Linked DNA regions of Homo sapiens. The protein of the gene in region 1 interacts with the protein of each later gene in a biochemical or structural test. Each region holds a gene or a part of one and is shown on either strand. Other genes may lie near its edges. The genes, in order: GUCY2C and PDZK1.

Region 1 (10,618 bases):
GCAGATAAGGCATTTAAAACATAATTTTGACAGTTAAAAATATCATGAATACAGAGCCAGTAAATAAAATGAAATAAATGAAATAACAAAATCTCCTCAAGTTCTAAATAGTCTGTTCATTCTTCCTCTTTTCCAGGTGGAAGCTCCCTCTTGGGATAAAGGATCCACAGTGGAAAAAAAAAAAGGTAGTTTTATACTGAGCCCCCACATCTGATTCAGGGAAGCAAGTCTGTGTTCCAGACAGGGAAGCCAAGGCTAAATACTTTTCTGTTTCATTGAGGTCTCAGGAAAATGCAGGGTTTCAGGATAATCCCCTTCTTGCAGTCTAGGAAGGGAGGTTTCTAAACCTTCTCATGTATAGTCCCTTACTTCTTATGCAATATATGCCACTTGTAAGGCATTTGCCAATTTAAATTGGCTGTAACTAACAAAGCCAAGATCTCTAATTTCCTCCCTGTCCCTGCCACACCCAGAAGCTTACACAGTAGGAGGGGTTGGCAGGTTGAATTTCTGGTCCTTCATCCCAGTCAGCCAGTAGGTAGTCTCATTTCCTCTTCCCTGGTAAGACAAAAGAGTTACGTACCACGGAGTCCAAGGAGTCAGTTCAGTTGTAGACCACTGTTTCCATAATGATCTGTTTCTGTGACATGTTTCACTTCCGCATTTCTCATCAGTGCCAATATTTAAGCACATCACACATTCCTGTTATGATTTGCATTATCTCTAGACAGATTTTTATTTCCAAGTGCCTTTTTAAAAATAAGTTTCTCATTCAGCAGACATCCTTTTCTCAAAGTAGAGTTTTCTTTTTTTTCCCCAAAAGACATTTTAAAATATCACTCTAGCAACATCACAAGAACTCTAACTTAAAAAGGAAGAAAATTCATCTACAATTCTGCTACGTCAACAAATCCAACTGGTTGTCATTGTCCATATTTCCTTCTAGCCCTTTTTGCAATAAAGTTTTGCTACAAAACTTTTGCTACAGTTTCCCTATCTTATTACAAACACATGTACATCACAATTAAGAACTCATTAAGTGGCATTTCTGGGGCCCATCTGGAGGCTACGGAATGTATGGAAATTTACTGGAATACTGGAAACCCTGTTTTTGCTAAAGCTGGTATTTGAAAAAGAGATACAAAATACATATGGCCCAAACACAGCCAGTGAACCACTATTTTTAAAAAATGAGTTTAATAATATATATCTATAATATATATCAATAATTTAAAAATGAGTGATTGATATATATATATATATAATTGATATATATTGTTAAACTCATTTAAAAAAGTAGTGGTTCACTGGCTGTGTTTGGACCATAGCAATCCATAAACTGGTTCTATTTTGGGGTAAGTGTTCTTTGTAAAAAATGTACTTATGGAGGACTCAAAAAGCAAGTGTGATGTTAGGACACTTTTACGTAAAAGGAGACTTTTCCAAGGTGCAATCCAAATGTAAAGGCCAGAAGCATTATGGCTACCGGAGACAGGTAACTTACAGTTAATAGCTGGCTTTGCCAGTTGTGAAAAGATTCCAATAACTTTGGAAAAGCAGCCTGAGAAGCATTTGGAGACAACTGATGGCTATGGAGGGCAGCTGTTTTAAATGTGAGGAACTGCATGAAGAATCTGGAATAGCGATTCTCAAATATTAGTGTGGTCACAAACACATTATCTTGTTAAAAATATAGATTTCTGATCTACGCCCACAGAGAATCTTGCATAGTAGGCCTGGTAGAGTGTCCACACATCTGCATTTTAACAAGCTTCCAGATGAGGAAGAGGAGGAGAATGGGGCCACACCTTGTCATTCACTCCTTGTGATTCTAGAGCTTCCGAATAGTAAAGCAACTGGCAAGAGAGGTGACCTCAGATCATAGCAGCAGTGTGTAGTAAGAGTAGGGAAGTAAGTGGGGGGACAAGGGTTTTGATTCAAATTAAATAAGTCCTGGACCAGACTGTATGTAGCTCTTGTGTTTGGAGGAGGAACTGGATACAAAACCTGGATATGGCAGAGGAAATGCTGGCAGAGTTCAAAATCTCAAAAGGGCTCTTTGGAGTAAAGGCAAGTTTTGAGTTCACATTTTTTGGTGGTCATTTCTCTTGCAGAGGATGGAGGGTGCTCATCGTGATGAGTACAGAAGAGGATTAGCATGCTCAACTTTCCTGGCCAAGTCTCAAAGGAGGTGGCCCAAGCGTGTCTGAGAGCTTTTCCTATGCATTGTCTCTGTGGACTCCTTACCTTTAAGTATGTTTCTCCTCTCACTTCATAAAGGAACTGGCACTCAGTTCTCTTCAGGATGGCTATGGTGGAGCCACTCACGTGAATTCTCAAAGCTGGAAATGCAAATTGACAAATAAAAATCCCAGCTAGTACACAGCCTATTTGTTTCCCGTTGATTCAGGATATCAACAACACCTGAGACAAGAATCCTAAATCAAGAAGAAACAATTGTGGCTATTTTAATGAAAGAACACTTAAAAATAACATCAGAGAGATAAGAAATGGTATAGTTTGGATATTTGTCCCCACCCAAATCTCATGTTGAATTTTAATCCCCAGTGCTGGAGTCCTGGCCCCCGACCAGGTGTCTGGGTCACAGGGGTGGATCCCTCATGGCTTGGTGCTGTCTTTGCGATACTGAGTTGTCACAAGATCTGGTCATTTAAAAAGGTGTGGCACCTGCCCCTGCCACTCTCTTTCTTACTCCTGCTTTTGCTGTATGAAGTGCCTGCTCCTGCTTTGTCTTCTGCCATGAGTGAAAGCTTCCTGAGGCCTCCCCAGAAGCAGATGCAGGTGCTATTCTTCCCTTACAGCCTGCAGAACCATGAGCCAATTAAACCTCTTTTCTTATAAATAACCCAGTCTCAGGTTTTTCTTTATAGCAATGCAAGAATGCCCTCACACAAGAAATATAATCTCACGTGGGAAGAAAGAAGGCCTGGCATCAGTTTTCAGGGCCCTGCGTGATGTGATGGGGATCCCTAGGTTTTTCTCCATAGATTCTCATTCCAGCTCAGAGTAGTAGCCTGCGGGACCTAGTTTTAGATTTGGCTTGTAGTGCCAAGCTTGGGTGTTGGAGTTTGGTTTTGGGTCCCTGTGGAAAAGTTCCAATAAATAGCTAAAGCCTTGTGGGCAAGGTGAAGATTCGGGAGAGTTGAGGGGTCTTGATTTTCTCAAATTTCCTTCTTCTGGAACATTGTTATCCTTTGACAAAAGAAGTGGTGAGGGCACGCCCATTCACAAGTCCATTGATGTGTATCACCTTTCCCAATATAGGGGCCTAATAGCAATACCACAAACAATTACACAGTAAGAATAATGACAATCCCAAATTGTATACCTACCATGTACCATGATTGCTAAACGCTTAACATGACATCATCCCAAATTATTTCAGAAACCCTCTTGGCACGGTTGGTATTCCATTTTCAATTTGTATCTTTATCTTTCTGAGGGCTAGAAGGATCAGGTAGCTTTCTACTCAACTTATACTGAGAATGATTAACATAATTTCAATTGTAACCCAAGTCTGTCTGACCCCAACCTTATCCTTTTCCTTGCCAGCATGATTTGCCAGGACAAACTAGTATCACATTGTCAGTACACTACCAAAATACCATCCTGCCTCCTGTGGTTTCGTAAGCCCCAGCCATGTCTCCCAGTGCTTATTTTCTCTCTTCTATATATTTCTACTGCTACCACTGTCATCAATATTTATTGAGCATCTACTTCATGCAGCACATTGTGCCTCTACCTTGCCAAGCAAATGCAATATATTCCTTCGTATATAACAAATGCTTAGATTTTTCTTTACTAAAATCAATTCTTGGTTGGGTATGATGGCTCTTGCCTGTAATTCCAACACTTTGGGGCTTTGGGGGACCAAGGCAGGAGACTTGCTTGAGCCCAGGAATCTGTGACCAGCCTAGACAACATAGAGAGACCACACCTCTACAGAAAAAATTAAAAAATTAGCTGTGCATGGTGGCATGCCTGTAGTCCCAGCTACTTAGGAGGCTGAGGTGGGAGGATCACTAGAGCTGAGGAGTTCAAGGATGCAGTGAGCTGTGATTGTGCCACTGTGCCAAAGCCTAGGCGACAGAGTGAGACCCCATCTCAAACAAATAAACAAAAATCAATTTCCAGAAAAAACGAATATGCTTTGGGAGGCCAAGGTGGAAGGACTCCTTGAGGTCAGGAGTTTGAGACCAGCCTGGGCAACATAGTGAGACCCAGTCTCTATTAAAAATTTAAAAATTATCTGGATGTGCTGGTATGTTCCTGTAGTCCCAGGTACTTGGGAGGATGAGGTGGGAGGATCACTTGAGCCCAGGAGTTCAAGTTTACAGGGAGCTATGATCGTGTCACTGCACTCCAGCCTGGGTGACAGAACGAGAGCCTGTCTCTAAAAAACAACAACAAAAAAGCAAAACCAAATAAGAGGGAAACAGGAATGTGAACCAGAGTGTGTAGTTCTTACCTTGCCTACTGATTTTTTTTTAACTTTCATGAATCTATGGTAAATGCCAGGACTATTCTAAGTAGAATATCCCCAGATTCATTGTATATGAGCCAAAAATATAGAAATAGTCTAAAACTGAGCAAAAGTGGAAGAATAAAATAATTATCAGTAAACAACAATGAAAGCAAATGTAGCAAAAGGTGGATTGACACGGGTTTGTGTTCAGCTAATGTGAAGAATTATTCTACATCTCACTGGCACTTTGTATCTCCTTATTGTGCATTTTATCTCACAGTTGCCCTCTGCTGGAAAACAGCATCTTTGTCCTCTGAGAAAAACAGTCTCCCTTCTTACGGAGGCCAGTGGATTCCATCCTAGAGGCTGTGTTGACCGTATCTCCAAATAGACAATAACGAGGCATCTTGATTCCCACAACTCCAGCAGCACAGGGACCTGAAATGAAGGACAGAAAGCAGGAAGTGGAGGCAATAGAAATTGCAGAGTAGAGTGAAGACAGGTAAGCCTCTCTGTATGGTCACAATCCTGAATACTTCCTGTCATGGAGAAGTAGCTGAGGATGTGAAATGTGAGCTGGGACTTTTGGTTTAAATGGATGAATCCAATGAAGCATCATTATTCAATGCATGCGATCATAAAGTATTTTGCTCTCGCAAAGAAAACGACATTTGTAGCAAATAGGAAGGCATTCAGAGATCCAGATCACAAAGGTGATTTTAAATAGAAGGCTCTCAGGAAGGATGAAGATGAGCCCCACTGCTTGCTTACTGTGCCAAACCACACAACCCTGAATTTCACACTGCTGGAGGGCACTGTAGATTTGAAGCTTCAATGGCTCAAGTTTGTTTTATTTTTATTTTAAGGTGGCATTTCTGGGATTGGTGCCATGACAATGGAAGACAGAAGACAAGACAAAGGCATAACTTTCCGTAAGCATTTCATGGACCAGGCGAATGCAGCTGGATGGGGAAGCCTGTGGCACAAGGAGGTTCCAACAAGCAGAACAAAAGCCCAGGCTAGACTATGCGCTGTGGCATATTAGGTAGGAAATAAGGGTTATTCAGTCATGTATTTGCATAGAATGACTGAGTGCAAGGTGTTAACAGTTTCAGAAGTTAAAGATTAACTCAAAAACTGCAAAGCTGAGTTTTAAGCAATGCCTGGCTAAAGATTCATCTAGATGACTTCTGAGTTCCTCTCTTACAGGTGTTTTTTCTATAACACCTGTAACTCATCTCAAACCTTGATGTTCAAGGCTGTTGAATTAAACTAAGTTTGGCCTGAGGCTGCCTCTTAGGGGTCCCTACAAAACAAACTGCAACCTAGCTTGGTACATAAACAAACTAAAAGCCTAACTAGGGTATACTTACGTTATAGATAGCTGAGTCTCAGCCAATCGCAGTAGCTGAGCTTCAGCCAGTCACAGGCTGTCAACTGATGGGACTTTGACCAAATCAGGGGAACACAGAGGTTTGACCAATCAAGTTGTTTCTGTCCCTCACTTCTGTTTTCTGTCTATAAACATTGCCCGCCCACCTTGCCCATTGAAGCTCTCTGAACCTCTTCTGGTTTTAAGGGCCATCTGATTTGAAAATTATTCTTTGCTCAATCAAACTGTGTTAAATTTAATATGCATAAGCTTTTCTTTTAACAAGGCTATGTAACTTTCATGGTCTTTGAAAGTGACTCATGTACTTTCTGTATAACTGCAGTGGCAGGGAAGGGAGGGGGTATAAATATTATAGAAATTTCACCATCTGTTCTTTATTTCCCCTTGTAGATAATCTAATCCACTTAAGATACTATAATATTTTAGTGGGAAAATATATTGAAGTTGGGGGTGGGGAGAAAGGGAATGGGGAGGAAATAAATGAAATCATAGGTATGGTGATTTAAATAGGAGTCCAAAGCTTCTTGTTTTCGTACATGTTTGGTGTTTATCATGTCAGCAGTCAGTGGTGCCCTCAAAGGTCTTGTTCTTAGAGTTCTCTAGGAACTGGGTCTAAATATCTCAGGATGCATAGTGGGACCTCACATTTGGCAAAAAGAATTAAGAGTAAAAATTATGTGAGGTCGATCACACTTGAAGACCTTTTATCCTTTCTGATTTAGTTGGTGCACAGCAGTACATATGGTTCCCAATTTGCTAAGATGCTCAACTCCATACCAGAGTGAACTCCAATGCGAATCCATATTGGGAGGCCAGGAAGATGCTCCAGCTCAAAGGTCCCCATGAAGCTGAGGATTTCCAAGGCCATCTTGGCAATGTCTATTGCATGCCGATTGCCATTTCTCTTAGGCAAACCACTAGCCACCATGTACGCATCACCGATGGTTTCCACCTGTGGAAACAGTTTCTCATGAGTGCCTCTGCCCCTTTGAAAAGTATAGAAAGTAAACAGAAGCAGTTAATCACATGTCAAACACAAAAAGTGATTTGGGAACACAGTATGAGCATAGCCCTTTACACTTTTTCTGGGGCCAGTTGGATCAGTTCTATGCTGATTTCTTCAGGGTTTTTATAGTCCAGTTAATGGGTGATAAAATAGCTATAAAGGAATTTAGCCATTTAAAAGTACTTCATAATTATATAAATTGTCCAGATGTGGTGACAGTTCTAGAAATGTTCAAATAAATAATCTGAATGGTTTTATGTAATTTGAGGAACACCCTTAGTTTCCTGAAAATTAATCCTTTAGCAAATGTCAACATACTATTTAACAGAATATTGTACTTTGTAATATGTAATTGTATACATTCTTGTAGTATGATTTTCTATTTATTATAACCCCAGTGTCTTCTCTGCTTCATTTGCAGTCAGCCTAAACACTGCCCATTTTTTGGAGGTGATTTAAGAGTATGCCATTTTGTCTAAATTTAATACTTCAAATTAATTCCTGCTGAACTTCCTGTTGTATCTTTTTTGCTGCTTCTTAAAGTTGAATGGTAATTTTGACTTCTCACTCCTCTAATCCTTCTACTTCTCTTCACTTTTAGCTCAGATTCAACCACCAATTCACTAAATGTGAAACTAGAGCGGTCAAGAGTAGTAACAGAAACAACCAATTCAGGCTCTGATGACCTTGAGTTGTACAATTAATGGTTTCAGCCTGTTAGGTGATGTGGTTACCTTGTAGACATCATGATGATCAACAATGTGGTCAAAACTCTTATAGATGTCATTAAGCATGTCCACCACTTCCATGGGGGTGCTGTATTTGCAGATAGTAGTGAAACCTACAATGTCACTGAAGTAGATTGTAACTTCCTCATATAGTTCCGGCTCCACAAAGCCTTTCTCCTTCAGAGACTTTACCACTAGCCTAGATGAACGAAGGGAAAAAAAATGCCTTCAACTTCAGCAAATTTCTTCTTGTTTCACATAAATCTTTCAGGTAGTAGTGATTGTCTACCAAGAATTCTAGAATTTGAGACTTCCAGTGAATTGAGTGAATCGGAAACAGAGGTTGTGTATATCATATACATGAACATATTACACAAATACACATATAATGCATGTTGTGAACACAGATGAATACAAGCAGGTTCAACATTAACTTAGTGTTTGATTATTAATCCTAATACACATAAATAGATAACTTTAATATCCTCAAAACTCTCATACATATACATACTTGTCCACTTTTTGCTTCTCTATTGATAATCAACCTCTTACAGATGTGGCTCTACATGCAGAAGCTGAGGAGAGTGTGGTATTACTTAAATCACCACAGGTATCAGATCTGAATTTCTCAACAAAGTTGATAGTTTTACTTTCCTGGCATATGTAATATGGCATTGCTTAATATTACTATGAAATAATGATGCATTTAAATATAAATTTTGATATATTCTGAACCAGAGTTCATTTGATATTTTGAACCAGATTTGGGTCCTTTGTAAAGCAGAATCAATCATGTAAATAAATTAAATCATGCTAAAACTGTAGAAGTCAAATTAAAGCAACTTTTAGAATATCTTTGCTGAATGAGGAGCAGCATATCAGATTCAAGATTGAAGGAAGAGAACCAGAAGAAGGGACTCCATACTTGGTGTGCCAAGTTACCTCTTCATTGAGAAAAGGAAGTGAGGGCTGACATGAAGTGGGATGGTCCCTGTCTGTCCTTGGCATCACTTTGTAGTGGCCCTCAGTATGGAACCACTAGAATCAGAAACTGGAAGCTGGGAGGTTCCACGGAAGTCATTGAAAAGAAATCTTTATTTTTACAGATGAGAAAGTTGAGGTCTAAAAAAGTATGACTTCCCTAAGTTCCCACAGCCGATTAGGGACAGAGCCAGGGCTAGAATTCAGGAAGCCTTCAGTCCCACCCATCAGTCTTTTTTTGCATTACACTCCCTGCACAACCCAGGCCTTGGATATTCAGGAAGATGGGGAAGATTTGGAGGTATGCTGACTGCAACAAAGGAGGTGGGCTCTCCCGGAAAGAAAACAACCAATCAACCACAAAGATTTCTAACACTCATTTGGAGAACCTCCAGAGTATCCGGAGAAACCTTTTTAATTGGTGCAATGACAAAACTTGGAACCTTTGAAAAACATTCCTTTGGTGTGGCTTGGATTCCTAGGTACACGACTGGAGTGGTTGTTCTTGACATGCCCTGTATAAAGTGCATAGTATTTTGGAGGCTGCATAGATGCAATGACAAAATTGGATATTCTGCCATATTTGCAATTCATTGTACTGCTTATATCTGAAAAGTCACATGAGTTTGGTGATATGGTTTGGCTCCGTGTCCCCACCCAAATCTCATGCTGAATTGTAATCCCCAATGTTAAGGGAGGGACCTGGTGGGAGGTGATGGGATCATGGGTGCAGATTTCCCCATTGCTGTTCCTGTGTTAGTGAGTTCTCATGAGATCTAGTTGTTTGAACGTGTGTGGCACCTCCCCCTTTGCTCTCTCTCTCTCTTCCTGCCATGCGAAGAAGGTGCTTGCTTCCCCTTCACTCTTCCACCATGGTTGTACATTTCCTGAGGCCTCCCCAGCCATGCTTCTTGAACACCCTGTGGAACTGTGAGTTATTTAAACCTCCTTTCCTCATAAATTACCTAGTCTCGGGTAGTTCTTTATAATAGGGTGAGAATGGACTATTACACTTGGAAAATAGTGTGTTATCCAGAGAGAGAAACTCATGTTGTAAATAAACGAAGGAAGGGCTGGGAGTTAACATGATGAGCTTTGATAACAGGTTGTTGCTGACATAGATAAAATTAGTATACAGAGTAGATCTCTTAGAAAGTCTTCCCAGAAGAAAAAACTTCTGGCCAGGCACAGTGGCTCACACCTGTAATCCCAGCACTTTGGGAGGCCGAGGTGGGTGAATCACCTGAGGTCAGGAGTTCGAGACCAGTCTGGCCAACATGGTGAAACCCCCTCTCTACTAAAAATGCAAAAATTAGCTGGGTGTGGTGGCAGGCGCCTGTAATCCCAGCTACTTGGGAGGCTGAGGCAGGAGAATTGCTTGAACCCAGGAGGCAGAGGTTGCAGTGAGCTGAGCTCATGTCGTTGCACTCCAGCCTGGGCAACAAGAGTGAAACTCCATCTCAAAAATAAATAAATTAATTAATTAAATAAAATAAAAATAAAAAAGAAGAAACTTCTATTTTAATGTATTTACCCCAAGGGGTACTATTCAAATAAATGTCTAAGTGATATCTGGTTCCTACATGCAATCTTAAGTTTATTTGCCCTTTGCTACACATATTTCTTTTTGATTCTTCTAGTTATTGCTCATGCATGTTTTAGTTTTATCTTGCGCATAAAATTTTTACATAAATAACCAAAGTGAGTTGTGCTGAAGCCATGGTGTATTGTAGCTCTTCAAGAGACTTGTGTGATATAACCTTTGGAAATCCAATAAAAACATCTACCAACTAGTAGTCCAAGTGGCATATTGAACTAAGGCTAGGAAAAAAGCTGAAATGGTGAGCCAGCTGATTCAAACCACTTGAGTGACATTAATGGTTAAAACCACCGCCAATGAAACCCTGGGAAGGCAGCCAGATAACCAGGATATTGTTTTTGTCACAACTCAGCATTAAAGATCAGGCAAGGAGTTATGCATTATGTACCTAATATTTATGGAGCTGTGATAGAAATTATCATCC
Region 2 (10,618 bases), on another chromosome or scaffold:
ATTGTACATTTCAAAATAGCTGTAAGAAGATTTGAAATATTCTCAACACAAAGAAATGATAAATGTTCAAGGATGGATGTCCTAAATATTACACCCTGATTTGTTCATTATATGCTCTTGGTATCAAAATATGACACACACCCTATAAATATGTACAAATGTTATGTATCAATAAAAAATAATAGCTCAGGCCGGGCGCAGTGGCTCACGCCTGTAATCCCAGCACTTTGGGAGGCCGAGGCGGGCAGATCATGAGGTCAGGAGATCGAGACCATCCTGGCTAACACGGTGAAACCCTGTCTCTACTAAAAATACAAAAAATTAGCCGGGTGTGGTGGTGGGCGCCTGTAGTCCCAGCTACTCAGGAGGCTGAGGCAGGAGAATGGTGTGAACCCGGGAGGCGGAGGTTGCAGTGAGCTCAGATTGCGCCACTGCACTCCAGGCTGGGCGATAAAGCAAGACTCCGTCTCAAAAAAAAAAAAAAAAAAAGCCAAAAATGCAAGGATAGTGATGCTGGCAGTTCAGATATGACAAAGAGAAGCTGTAAAGTGGCCGGGCACAGTGGCTCATATCTGTAATCCTAGCGCTTTGAGAGTGCGAGGCGAGTGGATTACCTGAGGTCAGGAGTTCGAGACAAGCCTGGCCAACATGGCGAAACCCCATCTCTACTAAAAATACAAAAATTAGCCAGGCGCGGTGGCAGGCGCCTGTAGTCCCAGCTACTCGAGAGGCTGAGGCAGGAGAATCGCTTGAACCGGGGAGGCAGAGGTTGCTGTGAGCCAAGATTGCGGCCCTGCGTTCCAGCCTAGGTGACAGAGCGAGACTCCATCTGTTAAAAAAAAAAAAAAAAAGGCTGTAAAGTGCTTCTATTAAGTGAAAAGTTCTCGATTTAATAAGGAAAGAAAAAATACTGTATGCTGAGGTTGCTAAGATTAGCTCAGTTATTGTTAATCTCTTACTGTGCCTAATTTATAAGTTAAACTCTATTGTAGGTATGTAAGCACAGGAAAAAACATATAGGGTTCGGTATACTATCTTAAAGTTTCAGGCCTCCACTGGGGGTCTTGGAATGTATCCCCCATGGTTAAGGGGGAACTGCTCTATTAATATCTTTGAAGAATTGACAGCATTTCTATAAGTAGCACCTAAATCTCACCACCTAAATGCATTCGGGTTCTTCCCTCCCTCCTGTGCCTGTCCTTGTTAGCCTACATTGGTGAGATGACTCCACAGCATACGATGGCTAATATAATAGTACAAACTGAAGAGGAGAGAATGGTAAAGATGCTTTCTGATTCTACAAATGCAAAGAAAGGGCGTATGACACAATAATGCAGTGTGGGCATGTTTTAGCGCTTTCTGGTTCAAGGGGCCAAGGCCACCCAAGATTCCATCTTTGCATTTAGCTGACCTCAGAAATTCTATTCAAATCAACAAATACCCACTGAGTAAAGGCTGTGTCAAGTTCAGTGCCAGGACCTATAACTGTGATTTTAGATCAGAAGCCAAAGGCCGAGTTAGCTCTAAAATCGGAAGTTTGTTTCACATTATTGGGAGAAAAGTCTTTACCATTGGATTTCGAGTTTTTCTTTGCAATGGAGTGTTCTGTGAAAGGGTGGTGTATGCAAAGCAGTCCCTCAAAGGCCAAAGGAGCTGAGAAACCAAAGGACAAGGCAGGCAAATCCAGTTTGTTGGTACATTGGAATTTATCAGGGGAACTTACGAACAGAAGCATGGTCTTGGACAGCCACAAAACATGTAGATCTCTGTGTTACTCCCCAGACCCAAGGCTGATATACCATAGGGAAAGGGTATATGTGCTCCAGCAAGACAATCGAAGGCAGCCCTCCGCAATAGCCAAGAATGCTATAGTGCATCATAGCCTATAATTTGCGTGATAACATTAAGGTTGACATGTTCTTAGACTAGGGACAGTAAATGAAGTAGAAATCGGGAGGCAATCACAGGACTGGGGCTAATCAGAAGTCAACATCACAGATTACCATCCAAGAGGGAGTCACTTGTGTCTCCACATGGAGTTTACCCCTACTCTCTTCCAGGTAAAAAGGGGGTGTACATGACTGATATTACACCTCAAGGTGTGGCTATGAGAGCTGGAGTTCTGGCTGATGATCACTTGATTGAAGTGAATGGAGAGAATGTAGAGGATGCCAGCCATGAGGAAGTGGTTGAAAAGGTATGCCCCAAAGGGTACTTTTCTTACCCTATCTTCCACTCTATTCTCATTGGAGGTGACAGGAAGACAGGGGTGGTAGGGGACAGCATGAGTTTATGATGGAAAAAATATCCAGTTGAGTTGCCCCTTCATATTAAGGGTGAACAGACTCACACTAGTGGTATAAGCAGTGTTAATATAGGGTTTTGGAATAAAGCCTTCCCTAGTTTCACATGAGGTCTACAAAATTATTAACTTTACCTTTTGGATCTTGTTTGTATCTGATTGGGAGCCCCCTCTGAACTGTTTGATTGAGACAGGGTCTCACTCTGTTACCCAGGCTGGAGTGTAGTGGCACAATCTCGGCTCATTGCAGTCTCGGCCTCCTGGGCTCAGATGATTCTTCTACCTCAGCTTCCTGAGTAGCTGGGACTACAGGTGTGCACCACCGCACCTGGCTAATTTTTATGTGTGTGTGTGTGTGTGTGTGTGTGTGTGTGTGTGTGTGTGTTTTGTAGAGATAGGGTCTCACTATGTTGGCCAGGCTGGTCTTGAACTCCTGAGCTCAAGTGATCTGCCCGCCTTGGCCTCCCAAAGTGCTGGGATTATGGGCGTGTGCCACTGCGCCCTCTGAATTTACAATAAGTTCACTGTTGAGCCGTTAATACTGAAATGCTTTAATAGGAAGTGGGAGATAACCGAGATTTTCCTTTGAGGTCATATGGAACCTTAAAAATTGACCAACCTTCTCTTTGTAGAATGATTTTTTGACGTGGACCCTTACTTTCTTTTCTTTTCCAAACTCCCTTTCTAGCTTTTATCTAGGTACCTTTATGGGTTTTCTGAATTCCAGCTCCTACTTGGGCTCAGTTAGCACCTATGTGGGTAGGTCATACTTAAATAAGGGAAAACAACTATAGAAGTGGAGATAGGGGCCGGGCGCGGTGGCTCACGCCTGTAATCCCAGCACTTTGGGAGGCCGAGGCGGGTGGATCACGAGGTCAGGAGATCGAGACCATCCTGGCTAACAAGGTGAAACACCGTCTCCACTAAAAATAAAAAAAAAAAAATTTAGCCAGGTGCGGTGGCGGGCACCTGTAGTCCCAGGTACTCGGGAGGCTGAGGCAGGAGAATGGCGTGAACCCGGGAGGCAGAGCTTGCAGTGAGCTGAGATAGTGCCACTGCACTCCAGCCTGGGCGAAAGAGTGACACTCCATCTCAAAAAAAAAAAAAAAGGCGATAAATACATATCAGTTAGCTGGTAGGGCATAGTGTAACAGCTTAAACTCAGGCCTTTCATCCCCTATCTTTTGTTGAACCTAGAGACTGTGTGCCTTTATACAGAAACTTTCTTATTCCCCAGCATTGTTCTTGGGGGTTGATGTCATTCCTCATCTGTGTGTGTTGTTACAGGTGAAGAAGTCAGGAAGCCGTGTCATGTTCCTGCTGGTGGACAAAGAAACTGACAAGCGTCATGTTGAGCAGAAGATACAATTCAAAAGAGAAACAGCCAGTTTGAAACTGTTACCCCACCAGCCCCGAATTGTGGAGATGAAGAAAGGAAGCAATGGCTATGGTTTCTATCTGAGGGCAGGCTCAGAACAGAAAGGTAAGGTACAAGAGCAGGAAACTTGGCAGTAACCAGCAAATTCCTCATCCCATTCTGACTCCAGAGTTCCATTAGGTTCCCAACTCCCAGCCAGATGCATGAGCGGCATAGCATAGAAGGCACAGCTGGGTCAGCGTCTATGTCACATGAGGGTCTGATGTTGGGCATCAAAAGTTTCCATAGCATTATGATAAGGCAGAATTTGGGATCTGGGCAACGGTATCCTGGTAAGTTAGCTCTCTGGGGCGGGGGTGGGGGGAAATCCAAATTGGTAGCGTTTGTTTTTGGTACCAAATTGGTAGTATTTTGTGATGTAAATACTCCTCCCATGTCCAGTTTCAACTTACTAACACGATGTCACTGAACACAATGAAGTGTTGCACAGAATTGGCTTTTGTGAGCCGGTGTGAGCCAGTATAGCACACCGCTGGACCTGAGGCCGAGGTGTGGGTGAGGATTTGGGACTCAGAACCAGGAGTCCTCCTTCCTTGCAACTCAATAGGAAGAACACTAGGTTCTTTCAGGGAAGGTAAATACATAAAAGAACATGAGTTCGGGCCGTATAAACTGCTATTCGCCCATAAGTTGTTATTTTCTTTTCACTCTCTGTTTACATTAATTTATCAAATATTAATTTGGTTTGTGTTTTGTAAAAACATCCTCAGTGCCTTGGAGAAAGAATATCATATGAAGCAGACAGGAATTCTTTAGTGAAGGAGTCTACCATTTAGTAGATAAGAGATATGTCCATAATGAAGGGAGATAGAGGTTAAGTACCTTCATACAGGGGCAGATCAAGCACTGTGATAATTCAACGTTAGAGTAAGCTTTTCTCACTAAAAAGGTACCAGAAGCCCTCATAGTAGGGGTGGCACTTGAGTTCAGGCTTTGTAACATGAATAGATTTGGGAAAGTAGACAGAGCTGGGATAAGGAAGATCATTCCAGGAAGGTGGGAATCATGTGAACACAGTCAGGAGACACTGGCACAGTTTAATTGGCACATGATGTGTAGTACAAGAATTCGTTGGAAAGGTAGGTTGGAGAGAGGTGACAAGGGGACTTCTATGCAAGACTGATGAGTTTGAACTTGGCTTATCAGACAATGGGGAGTTGTTTTTTGAGCAGTATAAGGGAGAAGAACAAAAACCAGCCTATAATGTCTTGGGGGCTTTGCACATCTCAATTACTCCTAACAATTATGCAAGAAGAACTGCTGAAATTGAGGGCTTGGAGAAGATACAGTAATTATGTAAGGTCAAATAGTTGTTTAGTTCCAAAGCCCATGCTCATTCTGTTGCACCAGGAAGTGACTTGGTTAGGAATGTGCACCAAGATGGATCTGAAGGCAGATCTGTATCAGACAGAAGGACTGGGGAAGGGAAAGCAGTAGGTAAGGTGCTGTAATAGTTTAGGTAGAATTCTAGGCAGGAACTAATACAAACTGCATTCAGGGTAGAGGAAGTGGGATGTGTAAGGTATTATGGTAGCATCAGAGGACTTAGCAATCGTCTAGATATGGGGACTGGATGCTGGGGAAGAATCAGTTGCCAAGTGTTGGTGACTGGGATGATGTTGCTCCACTAACAGGTAACCAAGAGGAGGGGCTTTGGGATGGAGAATGGGCAGAGCTGATTTTTGGCTTGAATACATTACAGTTGAGAGATCTATGAGATATTTTGTTGGAGATACCCAGCAGCTAGCTGGAAAAGTGAAACAGGAACTTGTTAAAAAAAAAAAAAAAGGCAGCATCTGGTGAAGATACCAGAAGGCCAAAGCACATGGAGGCATGTATATACAAATATATTCAAAACCGAACACACCCAATTGCTACTAAAATGCCAGCCTGGGTTTCTTAAGGTCCAAAGTTTTGGGTTTTGTTCTTTATTCTTCCCCATCTTTTATGACAGCTTTTACATAAGACGCGTGGCTACAAGTATGCCCACTGACTTTCTGGGAACTTGCAGCCTTTTAATATGCTATTTTGCCAAAATCAAATGTCAGACGCTTTTAGTAACAGGATTATTTTCGTTAAGACCCCTTCATTGTTAATTGCTGGGTTAGTTTCTGGGGTGAGTTCTGAGCAGGAAACGAGCCTAGATAGTGTGCTTATAAGCTTCCTGGGATGCTGGTGGAAGGGGTGGTAGTTGTACTCAGCATGCCTTTTTTATCTGTTTCATCAGGGCTTTGGGCTCCAGCAGAAAATCTGTTTTATTTTTTTAGGGGACTTACTGATAATTTTATTTTTTGGGGTTGGGGGAGGGTAGGTCAAATCATCAAGGACATAGATTCTGGAAGTCCAGCAGAGGAGGCTGGCTTGAAGAACAATGATCTGGTAGTTGCTGTCAACGGCGAGTCTGTGGAAACCCTGGATCATGACAGTGTGGTAGAAATGATTAGAAAGGGTGGAGATCAGACTTCACTGTTGGTGGTAGACAAAGAGACGGACAACATGTACAGACTGGTAAGTAATACAAGGCCATATATTCATGCATTAAGGCTGGGCCCATTCACTCATGACCTCAACTTTTGCACTGAGTTAGGACTTTGTTCCTCAAACTGGAAGAGGCATAACAATCATCATTAAGGCTAAACTGAAGCTCAACTCAAATTGGTAGTGATAAGAGAATGCCAAATGATTGATAAATGAGTTTTAAGTCCTTGGTCTTAAGATTTTGAAAGAATTTGTGAATATAACTGCAGGCTTACTCTTGGTGATCTGAGAAAATCTATGGAGAATATAAGCCTGGAAATAAAATTGTTCCCAAAATAGGAAACAATTAGATTTTAAGCTTTAGGTCAGTTAAGTGCTATCAACTGCACATAAAAGCCTAGAAAGGATTATTAAACAACTTGTAAGCCCTTAGCAAATAAAAAAGAAACACAGATAGACCAAGACCAACCTGAATCAAACTAACTTTATTTTCTCTTAACAGCTCTTTATCATAACACCCACTACTGCATGTTTTAAGGTTTTTTTTTTTTTTTTTTTTTTTTTTTTTACTTTTAACACAAGAACTGAGGTTGTCTAGTTTAACAGATAACCTGGGGGGCCTTCTAAGTACCATCTGTCTTGCTAAGTGTTGATTGTAAAGATGAACAAGATAAATGTCCTCTGTGATATACAATGATAGTAGAATCTAAAATAAGCGGTACAGAGGGGGGAATATGATGGGTGGTGATATCTTAGGCCCTCCTCATAGATTAGGAAACCGAAGCTTAGAGAGACTAAGCACTTTGCTAAAGTCACGCAGCTTAGTAAAGACTGAAGGTGGTATCTGAACCCAAATTCTTGGACCCGTAATTCATTATACCATACTCCCCAGCACATTTTTTCAAGATAATCTTGTAAGCAGGATTAAACAATTAATTAGATTAATGGCTTTTTTTTTTTAGCTACTTGAACAATCATACCTAGAAAATACTTGATATCAACCTGAATATCAACTTGAATAGAAGTCTCTAATGGCATGCTACTTGTTCCTAACCGTTTATGTGCTTAAAGTTGAAAGGAGATATGGAAAATATATTAACATACTTAAAGTGGCACTAGATAATTCATTTGCTGGATGGTGTAATTAATACTCAAAATATTTAGTTAGGATAGAAAGAATGAAAACTAAAGAAATAAGAATAAATTTCAGATGTACTATACTAACCTAAAAGTAAATTGTATGAATACCACATGGTGAGACCTGATTTGAGGACTACAGAAAAAGACCAGAAACTTCATAGTCCAAGTGGTTGCCCCATCCAAATATGGTAATTTAAAAATTAACTGACAGACACTTGGCTTCTAGAGATGACCATCTTACTGTACTTACTTGGTCAGACCATACTTGGAATACCTGGTAATATAGTTACCACCTCTCTCTGTGCTTCAGTTTCCTTAGTTGTAAGAGAGGGGTAGTAGCTACAGCGAAGGGTGGCTATGAGGGTTGAATTGGAATATTCAGAGCATGTAGAATAATGCCTCACACATCTAAATGTTCTATTTGTTCAATCAATATTGTGTCCGGTTTCAAGAACTTCACTTTAAGAAGGCAATGACAAGGGTAACCAGGGAAGAGGTTTTGGAAGCCACCATGTGAGTATTTAGCTTGAGTAAGGCTTTGGAGAAGAGAGCATCTTCAAGAATTTGAAAGGCTATTACATGTAAGAAGGAGCACACTTTTTTTTTTTTTTTTTGAGACGTTGTCTTGCTCTGTCACCAGGCTGGAGTGCAGTGGTGCCATCTCAGCTCACTGCAATCTCCACCTCCCGGGTTCAAGCGATTCCCCTGCCTCAGCCTCCTGAGTAGCTGGAATTACAGGTGCGCACCACCATGCCCAGCTAATTTTTTGTATTTTAGTAGTTTTACCATGTTGGCCAGGATGGTCTCGATCTCCTGACCTTGTGATCCGCCCGCCTCGGCCTCCCAAAGTGCTGGGATTACAGGTATAAGCCAACACGCCCGGGCCACACATTTTTTTTAAGGTGTCCTATGGGGCACAACAGGACCAGAGAAGCCATAGGGAGCTAGCTTTTGGCTTAAGAACCAACTGAAGCTGCCAGAAATGATGAGTCATTTTGCAGTTGGTGGAAAGTCAAGCAGAAATCAGAGGCGGCTGCTGCAGCTGTTTGTTGTAAAGGGGATTCTGACCCCTCCTGATCTTATCATAGAATGATTTAATTGTAATTTTTCTGTTTTGGTTAATAGAGAACTTTGATCGAAAAAGAAGCCTGCCCTCATCATCTCCTTCCCCGCTCTCCAAAGTAAGCCCTGTAGGTTGGGGTGGAGGGTAGATCTTTGAGATACATCAGTGAGTAAAACACAACCCTCTAGCAGTCCCTGGCACATACTAGACACCCAATTATCTGAATGAAGCATGAATAAAATCTCATTTTTTTTTTTTGAGACAGAGTCTCCCGCTGTTGTCCAAGCTGGAGTGCAATGGTATGTTCTCAGCTCACTGGAACCTCTGCCTCCCAGGTTCAAGTGAGTCTCCTGCCTCAGTCTCTCAAGTAGCTGGGACTACAGGTGTGTGCTACCACACCTGGCTAATTTTTATATTTTTAGTAGAGAATGAGGTTTCACCATTTTGGCCAGGCTGGTCTCGAACTCCTGACCTCAAGTGATCCGCCCACCTTGTACTCCCAAAGTGCTGGGATTTCAGGCATGAGCCACCAAGCCCGGCCAAAATCTCAAGTGTTTTAATGTTATTGCACTTTGCCTCGAGATGAGCTGCGACTGTCAGATACAGTTGATTTGCTTGTTTGGGTAGTGTTATCAGACGTATTTTTGCATGTAATGAGTCACCTGATAATTTTCCATATTTTAAAGAGAAAGGCTCCATTGTGGAACTGTTGCAAGTATATGACTGAAAGGTCTGAAGTTAGTTGAACTGGGTAACTAGGAGGTTCTGTGCTGGTGGTATTCTCACTTAGAAAGGAAGGAGATGTGGTCTTGTGGTTAGTAAGACACATGATAACCAGAGGACTAAAAATCTAATTTTAGTCAGGCTGCTAAACAGTGCGATTTGAAGTAGAGCCCACACTGTGCTCACCTTCCATTGCTTGATTTCCTACTCATCACCTAACAAATGTTCCGGACACGTGTGGGCAGCCATTTAGCTGCTGATCCAGGATCACACCATACCCAGGTCCACCCTTCTAATTGTCTCAACTAAAACAGCCAGTTAGGCTTGTAATTCTATTACAAAAAAATCAATCCTGTTTCCTGTTCTATGCCTCTTCGGTATTCAAGATCATCATTTCTTTACATGGATGGTCTGGGAGTTGATATGAATTAGGAGTATTTAAAGATGTTGGAGAGTTTGGCATAATAGAAGTGACAGCTAATGCTTACAACAATACATAGCAAAATAAATAAGCACAGATCCCAGGTCTGGAAGGGGAGGGTATTGGCAAGCAGCAAAGGGTTGGAATTAACTTTTGTTACAATATGTGACCATATAACAGCTGTCACCCTCTCACCAATTATTCCTGTGTATATGGGTTGGTCTCTTCTAGTAGCTTTGAATCTTTGGATAGTGATAAAAATAGTGTTATATTAACATTCTCCAGAGAGACAGATCTAGTAGGATATAGATACAGGTATGAGAGGAGATTAATTAGGGGAATTGGCTTGTATGATTATGGAGGCTGAGAAGCCCCACGACAGGCTGTCTTCAAGCTTGAGACCCTGGGATGCCAGTAGTGTGGCTCCGTCCAAATCTGACTGAGCCACATTACTGGCATCACCCCTGATTGGCAGTCCTACTTGTTTGCTTCTGTGCATTTGGCCTGAGAATCTGGGGGGCTGCGGCTGTAGATCTTAGAGTCCAAAGGCCGGAGAACCAGGAATTCTGATGTCCAAGCACAGGAGAGGAAGAGGGTATCCCAGCTCTAGCAGACAGACTGACACCTTTGCCTTTTCTGTAGTTCACTCAGACTCGCATGCTAATCCCCTCTGGAACCACCTTCACAGACACACACCAAAATAATGCTTTGCCGGGCTTCTAGGTATTCCTTAATCCAGTCAAGTTGGCATCTAAAATTAACTATCACAAGTGTCTTGTGTTTTACTTTTTCTAATGTGTTTAAGGAGCTCTGAAGACCATCTTACCGAAAGGAAAAGCCAGAAGAATGTACTCTGCATGAGGTACCGGCTAGTCGGTCAGATATGTCATTTCCCAACAGGGAGATTATGTATAGCTTGTTCAGTGACTTGCTCACTATCATGAACTCACTCAAAAGAAACTAGCAATTTTTTAGACTTCTTTTGGGATCCTTGTACCGCATCCTATACTGCTTTTATGTTCATGTGTGCATTTGTGTACATGTATACACATA

The links.
Region 2: the proteins of GUCY2C (region 1) and PDZK1 form a complex in vitro, tested with the Homo sapiens proteins (one study listed by IntAct).

Annotation. Positions count from the first base shown.
Region 1 is NC_000012.12:14,614,386-14,625,003, forward strand, and holds part of GUCY2C (guanylyl cyclase C precursor), read right to left. Parts: intron 7,813-10,618; coding exon 7,620-7,812; intron 6,832-7,619; coding exon 6,657-6,831; intron 5,371-6,656; exon of another isoform or gene 5,353-5,370; intron 4,989-5,352; exon of another isoform or gene 4,925-4,988; coding exon 4,826-4,924; exon of another isoform or gene 4,767-4,825; intron 2,343-4,766; coding exon 2,248-2,342; intron 559-2,247; coding exon 482-558; intron 186-481; exon of another isoform or gene 137-185; intron 1-136.
Region 2 is NC_000001.11:145,674,079-145,684,696, reverse strand, and holds part of PDZK1 (Na(+)/H(+) exchange regulatory cofactor NHE-RF3), read left to right. Parts: intron 1-2,060; coding exon 2,061-2,197; intron 2,198-3,589; coding exon 3,590-3,785; intron 3,786-6,051; coding exon 6,052-6,248; intron 6,249-8,483; coding exon of another isoform or gene 8,484-8,539; intron 8,540-10,370; coding exon of another isoform or gene 10,371-10,427; intron 10,428-10,618. UniProt on the Homo sapiens protein: A scaffold protein that connects plasma membrane proteins and regulatory components, regulating their surface expression in epithelial cells apical domains.